2 separate regions of the Homo sapiens genome follow, and region 1 is linked to region 2. Evidence: fine-mapped expression QTL. A gene starts in region 2. The other region holds a variant in brackets. All regions are shown on one strand. Distances are from middle to middle. Region 1 overlaps GRB10 (growth factor receptor bound protein 10). Region 2 holds the start of GRB10 (growth factor receptor bound protein 10).

Region 1 (5,198 bases), 72 kb after region 2:
GGTGGAGGTGGTAGAGGAGATGGAGGAGGTGGAGGTGAGGGATAGAGATGGTGGAGGAGGTGGAGGTGATGTGATAGTAGAGGAGGTGGAGGTGAGGATGGAGGAGGTGGAGGTGACAATGGAGGAGGTGGAGGTGGTGGTGGAGGAGGTGGAGGTGATGGGGGAGGTGGAGGTGATGGTGGAGGAGGTGGAGGTGATGGTGGAGATGGTAGAGGAGGTGGAGGTGAGGATGGAGATGGTGGAGGAGGTGGAGGTGATAGAGGTAGCAGAGGAGGTGGAGGTGATGGTGGAGATAGTAGAGGAGATGGTGGAGATGGTAGAGGAGTTGGTTGAAGTGCTGGAGGTGATGATGGAGGTGGTAATGAAATGATGGTGGGGGTGGTAGAGGAGATGGAGGTGGCGGTGGAGGAGGTGGAGAAGGTAGAGGAGGAGCTGATGTGGCAGGAGAAGTGATGGAGATGGAAGGAGGTGGTGGGAAGGGGTGGAGTGCTGGTGGAAATGTCGGGAGGGGAGGTAGTGACCGCAGAGGAGGAGGAGGCAGGGGCAGTAGTGGCAGTAGTAAAAATAGCAGCTGAGATTTACTGAGCCGTGCTTTCCATGTGTGATCACACTAAATCTTCAATAGTCCTTGGAGGTTATACTCACACAGGGTGGTTTAATGTCTTCCCCAAGGTCATGTAGCTACTCTTCTGTAGAAATTCTAGAGCTAGTGCTGTCCCCCTTTCGGCCAAAATGCCTCATTGATGTGGGAATACCAGATGCAAAAACAGGAACAAAACTGACTTGGCAAAGGCATTTTATTTTGGGAAAACCATTTGTCAAGATTGACAGGCTCTGGGCAGGAGGTTTCTTTGTAGGGTGATGGAAATGTTCTAAAATTAGATTGTGGTGATGGTTGTACAGATCCTTAATTATACTAACATTCATTGGTTTGTACACTTCCAACAGATGAAATTTATGTTATGTAATTTATATCTCAATAGAGCTGTTTAAAATGTAAATGATTGATAGACTCCTCCCCTTGTGAATAACCAGAATTGATGTTTCTGTGCTGAACACTGCAGAGTGGGTGGTTAAAGTGAGGCAGCTCATGCACTACTTTTGCTTTTAATTCAAGAATGGCTGCACTTGGAGGTAGTTATGTGGAAATAAGTGCCTGAATATGGAGTACAAGCCACTGATCTGTGTGTTTTTTAGGCCGTATGATTTTAGTGAAAATGTGATCATTTTTTATGTGGTGGTATTTTCCCTGCCAGGCCAGGCATTCTTACCATTTGGGAGAAAAGTTTTTTTGTACTCTGACCAGGGCTTGCCCAGATATTTTCATGTTGGCCTCAGCAGCCTGTGTGAATACAATTGTAAGTAAAGAGCATCCCCCTTGTTCCTTGATACGAGACACCTGGCTTGCTGACTTTTCTTTTTCCCCCATCTCAGGCTTTTGGTGGAAGCAGCTCTTGTTTTTGTTTAAGGATCAGTTTGACTGAAATCTCTGCTTAAAAACCTCTTGCTTCCTTTCCTCTTGCATAGACCTAAAGTGTAATATCAAAACAGGCAGTGTCACTTTGGGTGAGAAAAATGGCTCTGGCTCATTTATTATGAAGGTTATTTCCATTTGAGGGACTAGTTTTGTACACCTTGCAACTGGCAGAATAGGAGTGCTGATACTGCAGCTTTTACCAAGTTCACTAATGTTTTAGGATTTTTTTTTTCAGCCTTTTTCAGCCTTGTGGAGTTTCTGCATGTTTTAGGAATTCTCTGAGTGACAGATTTTGTAGTTACCCATAGCTCGGTTGTTAAGGACATGTTCTCTGATTCAGCCCCAATGGGTCTCACACCCACGCTTACGAGATGTGATTCGCTGGGCAAGCTGCTGTCCTCCTTTTTCCTCATCTGTAAAGATGAGGTAGCAACAGTACCCATTAGAGACAGGATTTAAGTGGGAATGTGTGTAAACTGTCTAGCACCGTACCTGGTACCCAGGAACTATAATATTAGTAGAAACCCTGCCATTTTTACATTAATATTTAATAAAAGTATAATTACATGGCTGAGGGAGGGTAGTTGTGAAATCTGTAACTACACTGTATCTGACGGCTTGTGTGTGTTCAGAGTTCTAGAGCAGGCATATGTGCAGTTGGTAGAGAGGGTATCAGGCATTGGAAGGGAACTGATGAGCTG[G/T]GTGATGCCTCCGCTTTCAAAATGCAGGTGACACAGGTAGTCACTCTTCACTCGGCTGCAATAGCTTAATAGACTTGCGGTTTGAAACATTTTACTTCTTTAAGTGCATCCTGTGTGAAATGACAAACCCCATCCCTGTTGCAGTTCACATGTTCATCTGCAGACTCAGCGCCCTTGGGTGGACTCCAGCAATGTGCCCCACCCGTCTCAGCTGATGTCCCTGGCTGGGCAGGAGGGGTTTGGGAAACTGCCTGCAGGAAGGCCCCAGGGAGCTCTGGGACCCGGATGGTGGGTCGTGTAGGATTGCGTCTTCTCCTTTGCACCAAAAATCTGAGGGTAGCTGCAGGAGAGGGTTTCAGGGGGTGGGGGAGGGCTGGGAGAGCCCCTTTTAACTGCACCCTCAGGAGCAGTTCTCATCCACTGTTCTCATCTGTTGCTTTTTTTTTTTTTTTAATTTGGTTGGCTGTTTTTGCATACCTGTAATGTTTAAAGTTGATCCCTGTTAAGCCTGTAGGTTATGATCGGGCATTCTCCCAGGTGGAAGACATTTCGAATCCCTGTCATTCTGCTCTCTGTGGCATTGGTCTTTGTTTACCTTAGTGGAGTTATTAAGTGTGCCTTCTGTGCCGTTCTCCAGGTTCTGAAAATATTGTGCACAGGGCAGGCTGAGGACACAGCCACGTGATACCCACTGTAGAGAGAGGGAGAGAGAGACCTCCTATGCAAGCTGCCGGCCCTCTGTTCCGTAGTAAGGTCAGTGCCCGCTGTCTACCGAACACTCAGTACCTTTAGTTGCTGGGCAAGCCCTTTATTTATGTTATTTTAATTTGAACCTCAGAAGTGACCTATGAAGTGGTCGTTCTGCCTCAGGAAGGTGTGGAGATACCCCGAAGGTGAGGCAGTTGCCCTGAGTCCCAAGACTAACCAGCATGTGGGGGCCTGGGATCTGAGCCAGTGTCCAGCCTGCTGTGCAGTCCTTCCATTTGTCACCTGCAGTGCCCGCCGCACTGATGATGGCACTCCTCTCATCCAGTTTTCCCGCTGCCCCTCCATCCGTGTGTTGCAGTTTTAGATAAGAAAACTGCCTGAATCGCCCAATGAACAACATACCCTGGTTCTCTGGGGCTGGTTCCTCTTGTGCATCTTGTAGTGTTTAGTTGGTACCCAGCAGAGGCAAGAGTGCATTTGATGCTCTAGTTGAAACGGAACGCCAATGACTGGTGGTAGGGGCTGCTTCCTCGCTGTTTTGTGCCCAGGCTACCTTGTGATGCTTTTTGCTGAAGCCTGGGCTTTGAAAGGTGGGTGGTGGAGCATTCTTGTCCCTCTATCCTCACAGAGAAGCAGAGGCTTCTCTCCCCAAGATCTTGGGGTGAGGCTGGGCCATGTGCTGGGGTTGTGAGGATGAGTCAAGGAGGCCCGTTTCTGGGGAGAGGGTGGGCACCAATCCATTCACCCTTGTTACTTCCTGCTTGGAATTAAAGCAGGGCTGCTGGGTAAGGTACGAGGAGGTAGACTTTTCGTTGGGGTTGTCAGAGAAAGTGCCAAAGGGATGAGCCTTGAGGATGGGTTGATGGGGTGTGCATGGTGGATGGGGTAGAGAACATTCTACATAGTGAGCACCCAGGGCCGAGTGCTGTGAGAGGCATACAGCAGTCACTTTGGAGTCAAGGAACACCAGCTGGGTTGTGGCTCCTAGAGTGCCATGGAGGTATGAGCCACGTTACATTAGGAAGGGCAGTTCACACATAGACACCTGGGTCCCCCATCATGGGCCTGACTTAGCAGCTCTGGCTGGGGCCTGGGAGCCTGCATTTCTACCATGTTCTCCAAGGTGAGGACCAGCCACACCAGGCCACCTGGTACCCTAACAGGCATGCCCACAGTCCACAGCACAGCTCACCATTTTCTTCCTCCCACGAGTCACTTTTTATGTGTACTCTTTGAAACCTCCAGCCCTTAATCCACAGAGTGAGGGAAGTTAAGCCACCTGCCTCTGTTAGCCAGGGTCTCGGCAGTCTGCAGCAGGCACCCTCCGGAGGGCGCGGGGTGGGGGTGGGGAGCAAAAAAAAAGAGTTTAATGGAGGGGTCTGGAGAAAGCAGCTGAGTTGTGGGTCCCAGCCTGAGGCCAGCAAGGAGAGGGAGTGAGGCCAGGGGGCATTTGTGCAATCCCCAAAACGTGGCTTACGGAAGGAACAGCCCAGCTGGCCTCCCGGGCCATGTTCCTGCCTGGCCTGGCTCCCTCGGCCGCCCACCACTGGGGGCCAGAGGACCAGCTGTTGGTCGATGCAGCTCAGGCAGACTCACTGCCTGGCACAGGATGGAGGAGCAGACAGAAACCATTCTCCTCACCCACTGGAGGGCTCTGTTACAGGAGATGGCTCAGCACAGGGCCTGGGACTGGGTCACCCTAGGAGAGGGAGGGCTTCTCGTGTTCATCTTTATGAAGGTGGTGTTTCTGCCCTGATCTTGCTGGATGGGCTTGTTCTGACTTTGGCAAGTTTTTCTAAAGCATGTGGATTTGGGAAAGTTCAGCATTAGTGAAGTGACCTGTGGGACTTTAATTAAGGAGCTTGGCTGCCCTCTCCCATCCTTTCACCTTCCCCTAGAGGTAGAGAGCATAGTGATTAAGGGCTCTGAGTAAAAAGCGGACTCACAGCTGGGTACTGTGGCTCACGCCTGTAATCCCAGCACTTTGGGAGGCCAAGGCAGACGGATCACGAGGTCAGGAGATCAAGACCATCCTGGCCAACATAGTGAAACCGCATCTCTACTAAAATACAAAAAATTAGCCAGGTGTGGTGGTGCGTGCCTGTAGTCCCAGCTACTCGGGAGGCTGAGGCAGGGGAATTGCTTGAACCCAGGAGGTGGAGATTGCAGTGAGCCGAGATCACGCCACTGCACTCCAGCCTGGCGACAGAGTGAGACTCTGTCTCAAAAAAAAAAAAAAAAAAAAACAGACTCACAGGGCCTCCCCCATTCCCTTCCCAGTCCTTCCCACAATGGGCGAGGCTGGGAAACAG
Region 2 (5,198 bases):
CTTGTGTCACGAGCTCCCAGTCCTCCAGACAGTGCTGGGAAGGGGTTGGGGTGGAGGATGTATCTCCTGTCAGTGCCCGTCACCATGGGCCAGGGTTGCATCTGGGCTACATCCCTGCAGGTGCTGGGTGTACAGGCTCTTCAGAGCCCTGGTAGGAGGAGGCTGTGCTGCAGGACATAGGGGTCCCATCAGATGCGGCTCAATAGAGCTGTGGACAGGGCCCAGGGAGGTGAGGCATAGGAAGTGTTTGTCCCATGCAATTTGGCCACATCTTTCACCTTAGAGGCTTCGCTTAGCTGTCTGGGGTCTTCCCACTTTCAAAAGGACATTGCTCAGAAGCTGACAGGAGCCCTGTGTGAGTGAGCATTTAACTGTGGCCTCTGTGGATGGACGCCTGGTTGCTTGTTGTGGGGCTCATGCTTTTGGGTCTCTTCTCAGCTCTGCAGGAGCCTCTTTCAGTTCTGTTGGAGGTGCTGCTCCAGGAGCTGCTGGGGATGGTGGTGGGATTCATATGGCAGCTAGCATGTGATCCACCAAATCTTTCTGGGACTAAAGGCATGGCTGTGTCTGCTGATCCTGGTCCAGAGACCTGTGTCCCTGCTTCCAGAAAAGAAGTCACCTAGCTGATGGAGCTGGGGAGAGGACCCGGGATGAAATGGGGCCCAGCTATTCCTGACACTTCCGATTAATCTTCTTGTTTTGGACTCTACGTTTCCCATTTCCAGAGGTGAATGGTAGTTCTCATTCCTGAGACTTTCTGGGCTTCCACTGAGTATATCATCAGGCTTCATCTCCACTTTCCAGCTTAGCCTTCATCTCTTTTGCCTTTGCTGTCAGTTACTTCTTGACCACTGGCTTTTATGCCTTTTCAAAGATTCTGTTCTTGTTCTAGTAAAGCAAAATGTGTGTCCTGTCAGCCATTCAGTGAAGGTCTGGCTTTTCAAGATTCCTTGTCCATCATTAGATCATTTCTCTCTTGCTCTTCCCACATCCAGGAACAGCTGCTTCGAACTGGGACCTCTGGCATTTTGTAATAGAGGGGAGTGTGGCAGGGAAGCCCTCTGTCCTGCACAACCTGTTGTTCTAGCCCAGGAGATGGCAGGGTGCGTGGGATGTTCAGGCAAAGGAGTTCACCATCCAGGCTGGGAGCTGCTGGGCAGGGAGGCAGAGGAACACTCGAGCCACCTTTGTGGGGTTGACTGCAGAGGTGGAAGAAGCCACTGTGTCAGACCGCAGAAAAGTCTCATATCTGGAGTCTGGAAGGAAAGCCAAGTTCTCCCAGTCAGTAACCTGCTCTGGACTTTGGATAAGTTACATAATTTCTCCACACTTTGGTTTCTCCCCGAATCTCAGGGTTTGATTCTGTGCTTCCATTTCCCATTCTGTGCCTTGCGATGTTCACTATGTGACATCTTCTCTGAGGGGTGCGCAGTTAGAGTCAAAAGCGCTAACACCTTCAATGTTTCTTGCAGTAGCCAGGCCATATGTGGTCAGCCCGGACTGTGAGAAAAGAAAGCCTTGTGTTACCCTTTGTGTTGTGTTGAAAACTGCTCTTGGCTGCTTTCAGAACCAGCCTTAACTCTGCTTTTGTTTGATCGACTTAAACATATTGGAATTTTGTGGTCATGACCACCGTGGAACCTCTCCTTTTGGAGTGCATATCTGCACTTTTTCCAGCCTCCTCCTCCAGTGACCTTCAGGGGCCTGACCTGGCCTCCGAGCAGTTGGACTAGGGTAGCTTTTCCACTCTTTGAACCCCAGACTGAGATGGGGTTTTCCCAGCGCCCTGCCCCTTAACGTGTGTGAATGCAGTATAGGATCTCAGTTTCAGAATCCATTGTCCACTGTTGACTGTTAGGTTCTTACTGCTGTCTACAATGTCTAGCTTTTCCTACCATGTTCTCTGCTAGAGGGGAGTAGAAAATCTGCTTACTGCTTACTGTGGCCTTGTAAACGGCAGTGAATATCTCCAAACGTTCTGTTTTGCTTCCATCATTGCAGGCTCGTGTGTATGTCTGTGGTGTATGTGTGTGCGGGGGTGGGGGAGTATGTGTGATGTGTGTGTGTGGTGTATGTGTGTGTGTGGTGTGTATGTATGTGTGTGGTGTGTATGTATGTGAGTGGGTGGGTGGGATGTGTGTGGTGTGTGTGTGAGGTGTGTGTGGGGTGTGTGTGTGTGTGAAGTGACTAGCACATAGCAGATGCTTGGTATGTATAGGATCTGTTCTTTCCCTCGCTGACTCTCAGTTTAAATGGGACCCTACTTTGTCCTCGTTGTTCAGTAACGTTATGCCTGTGGCTTCCAGAAAGAGCCTCTCCCTTCCTGGTTCTTGCTCTGACATTTTGGGGAGAAGGGTGAGACGAGAGTGATCCTGGAAGAGTAGAACTGGCCGGCCCTGCAGGTGGAAGGTTGCTCGAGCAGGCGGCATCTCTAGCTTGCCGCGGCCGCGATGTCCCCCGCCTGTCTGCGAATGCGGCGTAGCGGGTAGACATGGAGGGCTTTCGGCATCGTCAGAGTGGCCAGTGTGCGCGTCCTTGCCCATCAGGCGGGGGGGCTGTGGGGGAGGAGAGGAGGCAGTGGAGGGAACAAGGGGTTCTTCAGGGTTGCCATGAGAACCAGGGATCCGGGGATTGGGCAGCAGAGGGCCCCCGCCGGGCGTTGGGGCGTGGCCGCGTCACATGGGTTTGGTCCTGGGATTCCTGTTGTGCTCCAGGACCGGGCGCTGCTCCGTCGTCCTCCCGCTCCTCAGGAGCGCCCAGTCCCTCGGAGGCTGAGTATTGCAGCCGGGCGGCAGCCGGCTCCGCGGAGGGGCCCCCGGGCACCTGCGTGGTGATGGCGCTGGGAGCCCCCGGGCACGCTCGGGCGGTGGCGCGGCATCCCACCCTCGCCCGGATGGCGTCCCCAGAGGCGGCGTTGGCCCGCTTTTCGTGCTAGCGCGTTCGCCTGGCGCGCGGTGGCCCCGAGGCCCCGGGTCGGTTTTCTGCGCCGCAGGCCCCTGGCCGGGGCGGAGCCGTGGAGGACCAGCCCGGCCCGGCTCCGAGCGCTGTCCATGCGGAGCGCTGTCCACGCGCCGGGCACTGCGGGGGCCGGGCCCCGAAGCCCTACCCGGGCCGGCGGCGCACACGCAGCGACCCCGTGCGGCCAGTGCTGCCGCCCGCTCTCCAGGTACTCAGGTGGGCTCCGCCGCGGGCGCTGGGCGGTGGGCGGTGGGCGGTGGGCGCGAGCCGGGGCGGCGGGCGGATCGGCCTGCGCAGGCTGCAGAGGCCCCGGCCGCGGCGGACAGGGCCCGGGAGGGAGGCGGGGAGGTCTTGCCGCGCGGCCCCCTGCCCGCCTGCCGCGGGCTCGCTGCAGTCCGAGATCCCGAGCTTCGTTGCCGCCAGCCATAGGACAGTATTATGTAACCATTTTTAATCTTAATTGTTTAATATTATGTAACGAGTAATAACTGTACCCACGGAAACCCGTGACGACGATTCGAGCGAACCTCGCCCGCTCCTTCCTCGCCAGGTGGTGGGCAGCGGGTGTGGGAACCGGTTTGGGAAATGAGTGGATCTGGGCATCCGGGCTACTGCACCGGCTTTTTCTGTGAAAAACATAATGCTAGAGCCTGCCTGGAATTCTCTTAAACCTGGATGGCATATAGTCCGGTATAAAAAAGCTTTGAGTAAACACGTATAGTCAACGTTGCCTCTTTCTCCATGAAAACCTCTTTCTCCCTGGAAGGTGCATATCAGACAATGTGAATTGAGCAGTGAAGATGTGGGCATGGGGTTCGTGTTCTTGATGGAGTTCAAAAAATTGTGCATATGAACACGTAGGACGTCCTAGCCCTTGCTCTTTAGAAAAACAATCGGATCACCTGTTCCACACGCCAGTCGCCTCCTTGGTCGGCTGCCATTTGTCTGTTGATGGTACAGTCCCTGCCAGGGTGCTGGGGGGACCTCGTCTGCGGAGCCGGCACACAGGTGGCTATGGGCGGGGGAGACTGCAGTCTAAACCCGCAAAGCTCTCCTTCCTAGCCCAGTGAGGGGAAGCGTGGGTGTCTTTCCTCATTGTTCTTTTTAAGTCTGAAAGGCAGCGACTGCAGGGATTATGACGTGCTGGCGGCCAGGGCCTCGGGTGCTGCCTGGAGTCTCCTGCGTGTCTCTGCTCCTTTGATGTCAGCATCGGGGGTGGGAGCAGGGCCCACGCATTCCCCCTTTGGCCTGGGTGGGAACAGGGGAGGTGGTGGGCAGGGCCAGAAGGGCTTACTGGGATTTTCTTTCTCTCTGTCACTCCAGAGAAAGGTGGTAAAGAACACTTGTTTCAGTTTGAGGTGCTCGGCAGCCACGCGCTGAAGGACGGTTTTTAATTGTAGGGTGGGGTGTGAGTGCAGTGTGGTTCAGTCCCCTCCCCATCTTGTGCTACCTGCCGTTGTACCTGGACCTGTGAATCAGGGATAATAGTTACTATCTTGTAGGACTGAGAATGGTGCATACTAACTGCTGAGGAACATGGTGAATGGAGTTATGGTAATTGCACGATTGGCATGAAGGGGTGAGAGAAGTTCCAGATTGGTCGATTAAAATGTGAGTTATTTTTAGTGTCTCCTAAGGATTTCCATCACCAGTTGCTCCTCCAGCCATCATGTAATTACCACCCCAGAACTAGGCTTCCAAACTTCGAGAGAACACTGCATCTTTCGAATTTTGGAGGTTAGGCTCCAAAATTTGCATATTTAGGCCACAGCCTAAATTCACTGACACTTGTGTTCCCACAAAAGCCAGGCAGCTTCTTGGAGTATGTACTTGTGACTTAGTAAGAATGTCTTAGGAAACTCGCTTGGACTAGAATGGTTTTACCTTTCTTTCAGACTTGGGAGGCTGCATTCTGATAATTCTCAGGAGGAAGAATGTATAGGAGAGACCAGGGTTTTTAAGGTGTGACCTCTGAACCACCTACATCAGAGCTGACTGCCTCTCGGTATGTATCCCCAGGCCCCAGCTCTGAGCTACGAAACTGACTTTCTGGGCTTGGGACCTGGAATTCTTTGTCTTTGTAAAGCATGCCAGGTGATTCTTACAAGTATAAAGTCTGAGAACTGATGTGGTGTTCTGGGCCTTGTAACTACTGGGGCTTCTGGTGATTCAGTTAGAAAGTTAGCAGCTCCTGTCTGAAGGGTCAAGGGCAGAATGAGGGGAGGCCTTGAGGCAGTATG

The links. PIP is the estimated chance that this variant, and not a neighbour inherited with it, causes the effect.
Region 1: its variant is fine-mapped to the expression of GRB10 in whole blood (TOPMed, PIP above 0.99).

Annotation. Positions count from the first base shown.
Region 1 is chr7:50,708,608-50,713,805 of GRCh38, reverse strand. The region is part of intron 4 of GRB10 (growth factor receptor bound protein 10); the gene reads left to right. Among named protein-coding and RNA genes, the nearest start is that of GRB10, 72 kb to the left of the region's middle. The variant G/T (reference allele first, on the strand shown) is at 2,179.
Region 2 is chr7:50,780,392-50,785,589 of GRCh38, reverse strand. It overlaps GRB10 (growth factor receptor bound protein 10), which reads left to right and starts at 2,694. Exons shown (of 19, transcript NM_001350814.2): 1 at 2,694-3,166; 2 at 4,854-4,963.